Linked DNA regions of Homo sapiens: region 1 is reported to be linked to region 2. Evidence: microRNA targets listed by miRTarBase, many of them from high-throughput screens and not tested one by one. Region 2 holds a microRNA gene; the other region holds the end of a gene's coding sequence. Distances are between the middles of the regions.
What was found. The annotated mature microRNA hsa-miR-548f-5p reads UGCAAAAGUAAUCACAGUUUUU and lies in region 2 at 1,521-1,542, shown strand. An mRNA with a match to its seed (bases 2 to 7 or 8) in the 3' UTR can be bound and repressed. Matches are read on the target gene's strand: a 7mer-m8 pairs with bases 2 to 8, a 7mer-A1 pairs with bases 2 to 7 and ends in A, and an 8mer does both.

Region 1 (4,013 bases), 23 Mb from region 2:
ATGCAATATTTGAACATTTGACTTTTATTAGACTAGTGAGAGCGTGGCGCCCACTTGACTATTTTTATTTTCTTCTTTACTAAAAAGATGTGTTGTGGACTCCTCTGTGTATTTCTTTAAAAATGCCTAAAGATCTTTGAGGAATTCGAGTCATGGGAAACTACATGTTTAAGTATTTAATTAGAAGCCTCTCCCATGAGCTGGAAAAAATCTCTTGGCACAATTATGGAATAACTATTTTCCCTTCACTGCTGTCTTTTTTTTTTTTTTTTGAGACGGAGTCTCACAGTTACCCAGGCTGCAGTGCAGTGGTGCGATCTCGGCTGACTGCAACCTCCACCTCCTGGGTTCAAGTGATTCTCCTGACTCAGCCTCCGAGTAGCTGGGATTACAGGCGCCTGCCACCATGCCCGGCTAATTTTTTTGAATTTTTAGTAGAGACAGGGTTTCACCATGTTGGCCAGCCTGGTCTCGAACCCTTGACCTCAAATGATTCACCTGCCTTGGCCTCCCAAAGTGCTGGGATTACAGGCGTGAGCCACTGCGCCCAGCCCACTGCTATCTTAATGTTCAATATTGTGGGCTTGCAAAGAAGCGTGGAATGAAACTGAAATAGTAAAAAGGTCTCCATGTATCTGCATTATTGGTGAGTTTTCACTTGTATGTAAGCAACGGCGTGCACAAACACTTAGCACACACACACGTTTGTGTGTATGTTATAAACGCACAACCCATCTACCACTAAGTCCAAAGTTTCACCAAATTATTTCATTTGTGCTTTTCACATAAAAACAATTTATAGATTTGTCTCTATCTAAAATATAAACATCATTTTTTGGAGATTATTTAATAATTAACGTACTTTCTCCAGAGTAAAGGGTAAAATTTCTTATTTCTATAAAATTTAAATAAGTGTTTTTCTTCTAATTGGAATGTGACAATGTATTTAAATATACTTTCTTTTCTAAATCTGCAACTACCTTTTTCAATGACATTATGAAGGAAGACTTACTAACAAATAAAATTCCACTGATAATTTATTTCAGCTTTTAATATATTTTCTACTATAAAACCAAGCTGTCAAGACAGGAAAATATTACTAGCTTTGTTATTACAAAACAAGTGAGAATTTTTAATTCACAAAGGATGAAAACGCAAGACATTAATCTCACTGTACATACAATATTACAATAAACTGATTAGCTGTAGACTAATAAAACATTTAAGACTTCACACACACACACACACACACACACACACACACACACGTACCTTGAAACAAGAAACACAGGACAATTTTAATCTTTGATATATGTTCATGAACACCAAGAACAAGAACATCACTGATTTGAGTCTAATTGTTTTCCTGGTATACAATCACTAAATAAGCAAGATCTAAAGCATATTGTATTATTAAGGACATCTTTAGGCAAATATAAACATTCTGATTTAGGGCTTTTTCTCCCCACCCGAAACAATCTGCTTTAGCTATCAAGTAGTTTGGTTTGTTATCAATTTAACACGCTCACAACAACAAATACAGACTTTCTACCACAAAATTCAGGTGAGAGGTTTTTAGACAGATCATACAAAAAAATACTTGTTCCCAAGGAAGGCAATCTGTAAATTATAAATGCAACCCTAAGAAAAAAAAATCCTGGTCACAAATCACTCGCTTTCAAATATTGATGGAGAAATAAAAAGTGTACGTTGTGGGTGGAGAAATGTTGGCATGGAAGAGAGGAGAAAAGGTATGAAATGAGGAAAGTGTTATTTGCCACAGGAAATATTGGATTCAGTTGATTTTTAAAAATGAGGTATAACAGTATGCCAGTAAATGAAAAAACAAAAAAATTAGAAACCAAAATGCACATTTCCAATGGAAAAATCTCTAAACCTCTTATAGTTTTATTAGACATTTCATGTACAGAAGTTAATCTAGAAAAATACATTTTAAAAATCTTCAACAGACCATGCTCCCTGTAACAAAACCTTCCAAACCCTGTGTTTTATTATACAAAGCAATCTACATTAGTAGGTAAAAAGAAATTCTCAAATTTAGCAATGTCATTTTCCATCCAACATCCATCTAATTTACAGATGGGTTTCCACTATTCATACTGGAATTAGAATTCTGTAATAAATTTTTTCTAATGTTTTCTGTACATATTAAATAACCCAAAAGGTTCCTCTTGTAGTGCATGTGCCATTTAGCAAGTCTATTCAGTATTTTTCCAGTACCATTCTCATTACAGTGATTTGCCTGTAAATGTAGTTAATATCTAAAAGTGCACACAGTTAACTTTCCCAAATAACGGACTATTTCTGGAGGAAACCTAATATTCACAGAAAAGATTACCAATAACAATGATTAGAAATGTAGGGTTAGAATGTACTCTGAGACTATACAACACAATTATATACACAAGCTAAAGGACATTAAGTCTTTAGCCTATATTTACATAAAATAATGTGTGTTTCCACAGGGTCATACCAATAACTCAGTATGGTACTAGATATAATTAGGATTGTTAGCTACAATTCAGTATAGCAAGACAGCCCTAAAATGCCCTGAACTGACTTCCGCTAACTAAAACTCCAGTATATCACAGTGTTTTAAGTAATATTAGTGTGCTGCCCAAACAAGCAACTAAGATATCCAGTAAGGATGCTGTGTAACACAGTAAAAGACAGCAAGCCTTCATCAAGGGGTTATTTTGGGGTTATAATGAATTTTGGCACTTAAGACTGCCACTGCATGCAGAAACCCCGAAAAAGAAATACACAGGTTTCAAAATGGATATACTTCATTTTGTTTAAAATGCCCAAGAGCCTTTGCAACATAACTGAAAGTATTGTTCTATCAAGTCATGAATCTTGAGAAGAAAGTACATTATCCAATTTCAGGGAAAAAAAATACAGTTTTCTTACCAAATTATCCAGTGTATATGACTGGTTAGAATTTTAAGTTTTGATTTTTACTGAAATTCAGAGTATGAAATGCAAACATTCAGGATAAAATGAATTCATAATTACACGCAGTTATATCAACTTGCAACAAAGCAGCAAATATGAGGGCCTAACACACATCTCGACTCTCCCCTTCCCTTCTGATCCCTCAAAAAAAAAGTGCAAAATCAAAGAGTCACTGCTTGGTCCAAAAAATAAAATACATTGTGTATAAACATTTGAAATCTGATGGAATCCAGCTTCTATTCCACAGGTTGTCTTCAGTAAGAATCAACGTCCGAAGATGGAACTCAGTTCCAGAAGAATTAATTCTACAATCTGATTCTGGTACACAGTATGAACTGCTATATTACCAGTCTCTTTTTCTGGTTTTAATAGAGTGGGACCAAAAACAATTGCTATACTCTGATAGGTCATTCGATTTTTCTCTCCATTTTCTATAACTCTGAAGGGAAAAAAAGAAGTTGTTAAAAGAGAAAATAAGAGAGAGGGAAAATTCTTCAAATGGTATTATAAACCTAACAGTTTGCATTTTAAAAAGAGAAGTAATACTTATTTTCCTAAGGTGATGCATAAACTATTTAACCAAGTAGAATTCTGTCTAAATGCCATGTGAAGCTTTCTTTTTGATAAACACAGCTGAAAGATACAATTAAGCATACTCTAACAAACTTAAAATGTGTGATATTTTAGCTTAGTTTTTAAAATAGAACATTTAAGTATGAGTTACAATTCAGGTAACAGTGACTGCTCCATTAAGTTGATGGGAAAAAAATCTCATTAGGGTGTGGAGATTAAACTTTCCATTTTACTCATTTTATGTAATTTCTTTAAAAAAAAAAAACTCTCTCTAGCTGGGATTTTTTGTTTTAGTATTCTAGTGTACTTTCTATCAGATGAAAGAACTTGGTTATTAAAGTGGCTATGTAGTAACCTAGAACCATGACGGTAACTTAATACACCTCAATTAATATCCAATCTCATCTTCATATTAACCTTAGCAACAATTTCTGAACACCTACTATGTGCTAAGCATTACATAA
Region 2 (4,151 bases):
TCTGTTCAGAGCTAAATTAAATTAGATAGCTGCATTTTTTATGAAGCATAGGTAATGGAGCAGTATACTACAAATGCCTTTTCCTGAGACATTGGTGTGGAATATCTTTAACACAGAATTTTTTCCTAAGAAACATTCCTTTACTTGTGTGCAAGTTTATGAGCCTACATGTTCCTCTCCTGAGTAATTTATGTAGAATACATAACATTTGAAATGTATTTATGATATTTGACTATTATAATGAATATCTGCCTTCAGGTCAGACATTACCAAAAATTTTCATTTTTAAAAAATGAGCAAAAACAGTAGTGCTCATTTATATTTTCCAAATGTCTTCATAATTGAGTATACTGACAATTCAATAGTCAAATTTTAATAATTGTTGCAGTCAACGTTTTGTTTCACATTGAATAATTTTTTATTGTACCTTTCAGGGAAACATTATTCGTGCGCTTGTAGTGCGTGATTATCATTCATGTTGCTTCTAATAATATTTTGCTCACATACATCTTATAGATTGAGTACAGAGTCTAAAAATTTGGGTATGATTATACTACTTCAGAATATATTTTCATTTCCCAAATGTTATTGACTCTTAAAATTTCTAGCTAGGGACTGATTTTTTTTTCTCATTTCTTCTTCTTCTTCTTTTTTTAATGGAGAATAATATAATAGCTGTGGAAAACAAATGACTGTATTTTACTAAACTACACTAAACAAGCCAAGACACCCTTAATTTAATTCAATGTGAAAGTCAGAATTGTAAGAGAGCATAAATCTTGACTTCTTGACGAATATTACCAGACTAAGTCACATCATTTTGTTTGATGACTTTCTCCTTTTTGTATTTTTTATTTTGTTAAGAGAGGGTCTCTGTCACCCAGGCTGGAGTGCAGTGGCATGATCACAGATCACTGCAGCCTAGATATCCTGGGTTCAATCTATCCGCCCACCTCAGCCTCCAGAGTAGCTGAAACTATAGGCGTGTGTCACCACACCCAGATAATTATTATTATTATTATCTGTAGTGATGAGGTTTCACTAAACTGCCCAGGCGGGTCTCAAACTCCCGAGTTGAAGCGTTTCTCCCACATCAGCCTCTCTAAGTGGCTGGACTATAGGTGTACCCCACCATGTCCGCTATTTTTTCTTTTTTTTTTTTGGTAGAGATAAGTTTTTGTCATGTTGCCCATGCTCGTCCTAAACTCCTGGGCTCAAGCAATCCAGCCACCTCGGCCTCCCACAGTGCTGGGATTACAGTTGTGAGCCACCACACCTGGCCTCTCCTTTTATTGAGCGAAGTGTTTGCATACAAATCCCCTGGGATTTTTTTGCTCGGAAATCCCCTCAGGGCTATGCCTAGTCCTCTTTTTGGCTCTATCACTTTTACTGTATTTGTCAAAGAAAAGTATTTCAAGTTAAAATATTATTTTGAAAAATTCCTTATGTGTGCAAGTCTTCTCACAATAACCAAAATGATGTAGGCAAAGCCTTTCCAAAGTGCGGAAGTATTAGGTTGGTGCAAAAGTAATCACAGTTTTTGACATTACTTTCAAAGACAAAAACTGTAATTACTTTTGGACCAACCTAATAGCCTGATTAGCAGTGTCTTGCTCACAGTAGGCCTCATGGCATCATATCTCTTCCTTACCATCATTCTTCATATATCTATAAAAATTCTTTGTAGTAGACAGTAAAAGCCTTAAAGTTACCATTGATTTATTGAGCAATCTAATATTTTTTCTAATAAATATATTAAGATAATATAAATTTTAAAATCTCCATTACCCTCTAGTCTATTATATTTTCTTACTGATTGAATCGTTATGCTAAGGCAATTCTAATCGTAAGGACTATGGGTTGATTTCTACTCTTAACCTGAAACAAGAATAAATTTGTCATGCAGACAAATTTGCATAATGTTCAAAACATAAACATATGCCAGGAATTGAGAGGTCTCTGAGGGCAGGGACCTGGATTTCCTGTATGCCTTTCCTTCTCTTCTCTCTAGTCTACTGCCATTCTTTAATATTTTTCCATATTTAATAATGCCACATGTTATCATATATTGGGTAGTGGGCAGGGATATGGAGAAAATCATATTTTTGCCCCAGAATCCTCTACCAAGAATATTATTAAATTTAGAAGATTTTATATCACATTATTGTTTACCACATTTATTGCACATAAACTCAATTTTAAATCTTATAATTATCTTTTGACTAGTTCAGATATATTTAATTATTGTATTTTCTTTATGTAAAAAGTATTGTTATTAAATGTAAACATATAAAACAACTCATTTTCACAAATAATTTTTAGCATTTTAATTTTTTAAAATTGCAATAAATATTAAGTATAAGTTACTTTGACAACTAAAAGACCTTTATTACTTATGTTAATAAATCTTTCTAGCCACCTGAAATTAGTATATCTTTTCAAAAAATTCACTATATTTTTATGTGTATTTGCAGCCACTCACCATTTAGCCTTTGTTTTATGACTCTAGGGAATTCTTCATTAAAAGCTTTAGAATAGTCAGAATGTGAAACAGAAGACAGATCTATATAAGGCTCTTCCTCTCTCATCCTTCTGTTAGGAATTCTGCCACACTTTTGGTTTCTGATGGGTTTGATGTGACTTGGCCTTAAGTTTGGGCCATCCTTTAAACAATTAATCTGTGTTCTCTGCCACATGCTTCCAAACAAGTGTAGCTTGACTTCTTATCTTTTATGATATCTGAAAACCCTTCAGCCTACAGAGACACATACACTTAGTCTTTTGGTTGCTGATTCCAGTTGAGGACAATACTAATTTTTCTAGCCTGCATCCGAACTGGCATCTTTCCACAATCTTGATCCTGACCCATTGCTTCCATGTCCAAGACAGCACAAAATTCTAAAATTTTTATTTTGTTTTATTTAGTTTCCTTCTCTCTTTCTGATAGCAAGAAGGACACAAACTAGAGAAGCATCTTTGGGCAGTATGTGAAGCCTGCTCAAAGGAGTTGTAATCATTCTCATATATCTCAAAACTGAAGATAATTCTTGTCCTCTATGAAGGGTTTCTAGTAGCTGCTTTGAGAGTTCTTAGTTTCCTTTCTTTGTATTCTCATCCATGGCAGACATTCTTTGGCAGCAATTCTCACCTCTCAGGAAATAGAATCATCACTACTGTGGCCAGCTACTACAGACAAACTAAGGTACATTGAGAAAAAATGCCCAAACAAATGGGTTCTTCCCATATCTCCTCCACTTCACCTCCTCATTCACCAACTAGCTACAACAACAAAGCCCAGTTCCCAGATTCTCTATGAAAGAAGTTAGACTACAAATCAAGCATTCTAAGTTTTCTAGCTCCTACCTGAGGTCTGGCTTCTAACTCACTGTCTATGAGAGCTATTGGTGTTGCCATTCACTATTTACATGTGGGCTATAGAAAACAAAGCAGCCATTTTAAACAGGCATGTGGATATTTCCACAAATTCTCCCACTTGCTCACTCTAATGATAAAAGCAAGCCTCTAGCTTCAGTCTGGAAGGAATTTATCTACATATCTATCCCCTTAACTTTTCCAGCTGCTACCTGAGGAACTAGCTTTCAACTGACGTGTCTATGAGAACTAATGGAGATCAGCATCCATTAGGCCCATGGAGGCTACAGAGATCAAAGCAACAGTTTGAAAAAGTCTGTGGTTTGAATGAGCTTGCAAACATTTGCCATAGTTCTTTTCCCCAGCTCAGTTCAGCATGAGCAGATTATACACCCAGCTTTTCCCTGAGGAGAGAAGAAATTGGAAAATCCAGTTAGTGCCCCAACATTTATGGTTACTACTAAAAAGGATCAGTATCTCACCTGTTTCAGGGCAATGATGAGAGCTGGCATACTCTGGACACCCAGAGACCACTGAAAGCAGCAAAAGAAAAACAACTTGTTATGTGTTAGGGAACCCTCCTATGATCATTGGTGGATTTTCAGCAGAAACTTTGGAGGCCAGAAGGGAGTTGGATGATACATTTAAAATGCGGAAACAAACAAACAAATACACAACTGCCAATCAAAACAGTATACCCAGAAAATTATCCTTTAAAACTTAAGACAAAATTAAAAAAATCGAAAGCTGAGGGAGTTTATTGCCACTAGACTTGTCAT

Region 1: the mRNA of ARHGAP12 is a reported target of hsa-miR-548f-5p. Seed matches in the 3' UTR shown: 7mer-A1 at 3,131-3,137.

The regions. Positions count from the first base shown.
Region 1 is chr10:31,804,418-31,808,430 of GRCh38, forward strand. ARHGAP12 (Rho GTPase activating protein 12) reads right to left here. Exons shown (of 20, transcript NM_018287.7): 20 at 981-3,415. The coding sequence ends at 3,241. Among named protein-coding and RNA genes, the nearest start is that of MACORIS, 99 kb to the left of the region's middle.
Region 2 is chr10:54,605,317-54,609,467 of GRCh38, reverse strand. It overlaps MIR548F1 (microRNA 548f-1), which reads left to right and starts at 1,511; the gene lies at 1,511-1,594. The region is part of intron 2 of PCDH15 (protocadherin related 15); the gene reads left to right. LOC105378311 (a long non-coding RNA gene) reads right to left here. Exons shown (of 6, transcript NR_134503.1): 3 at 2,483-3,776.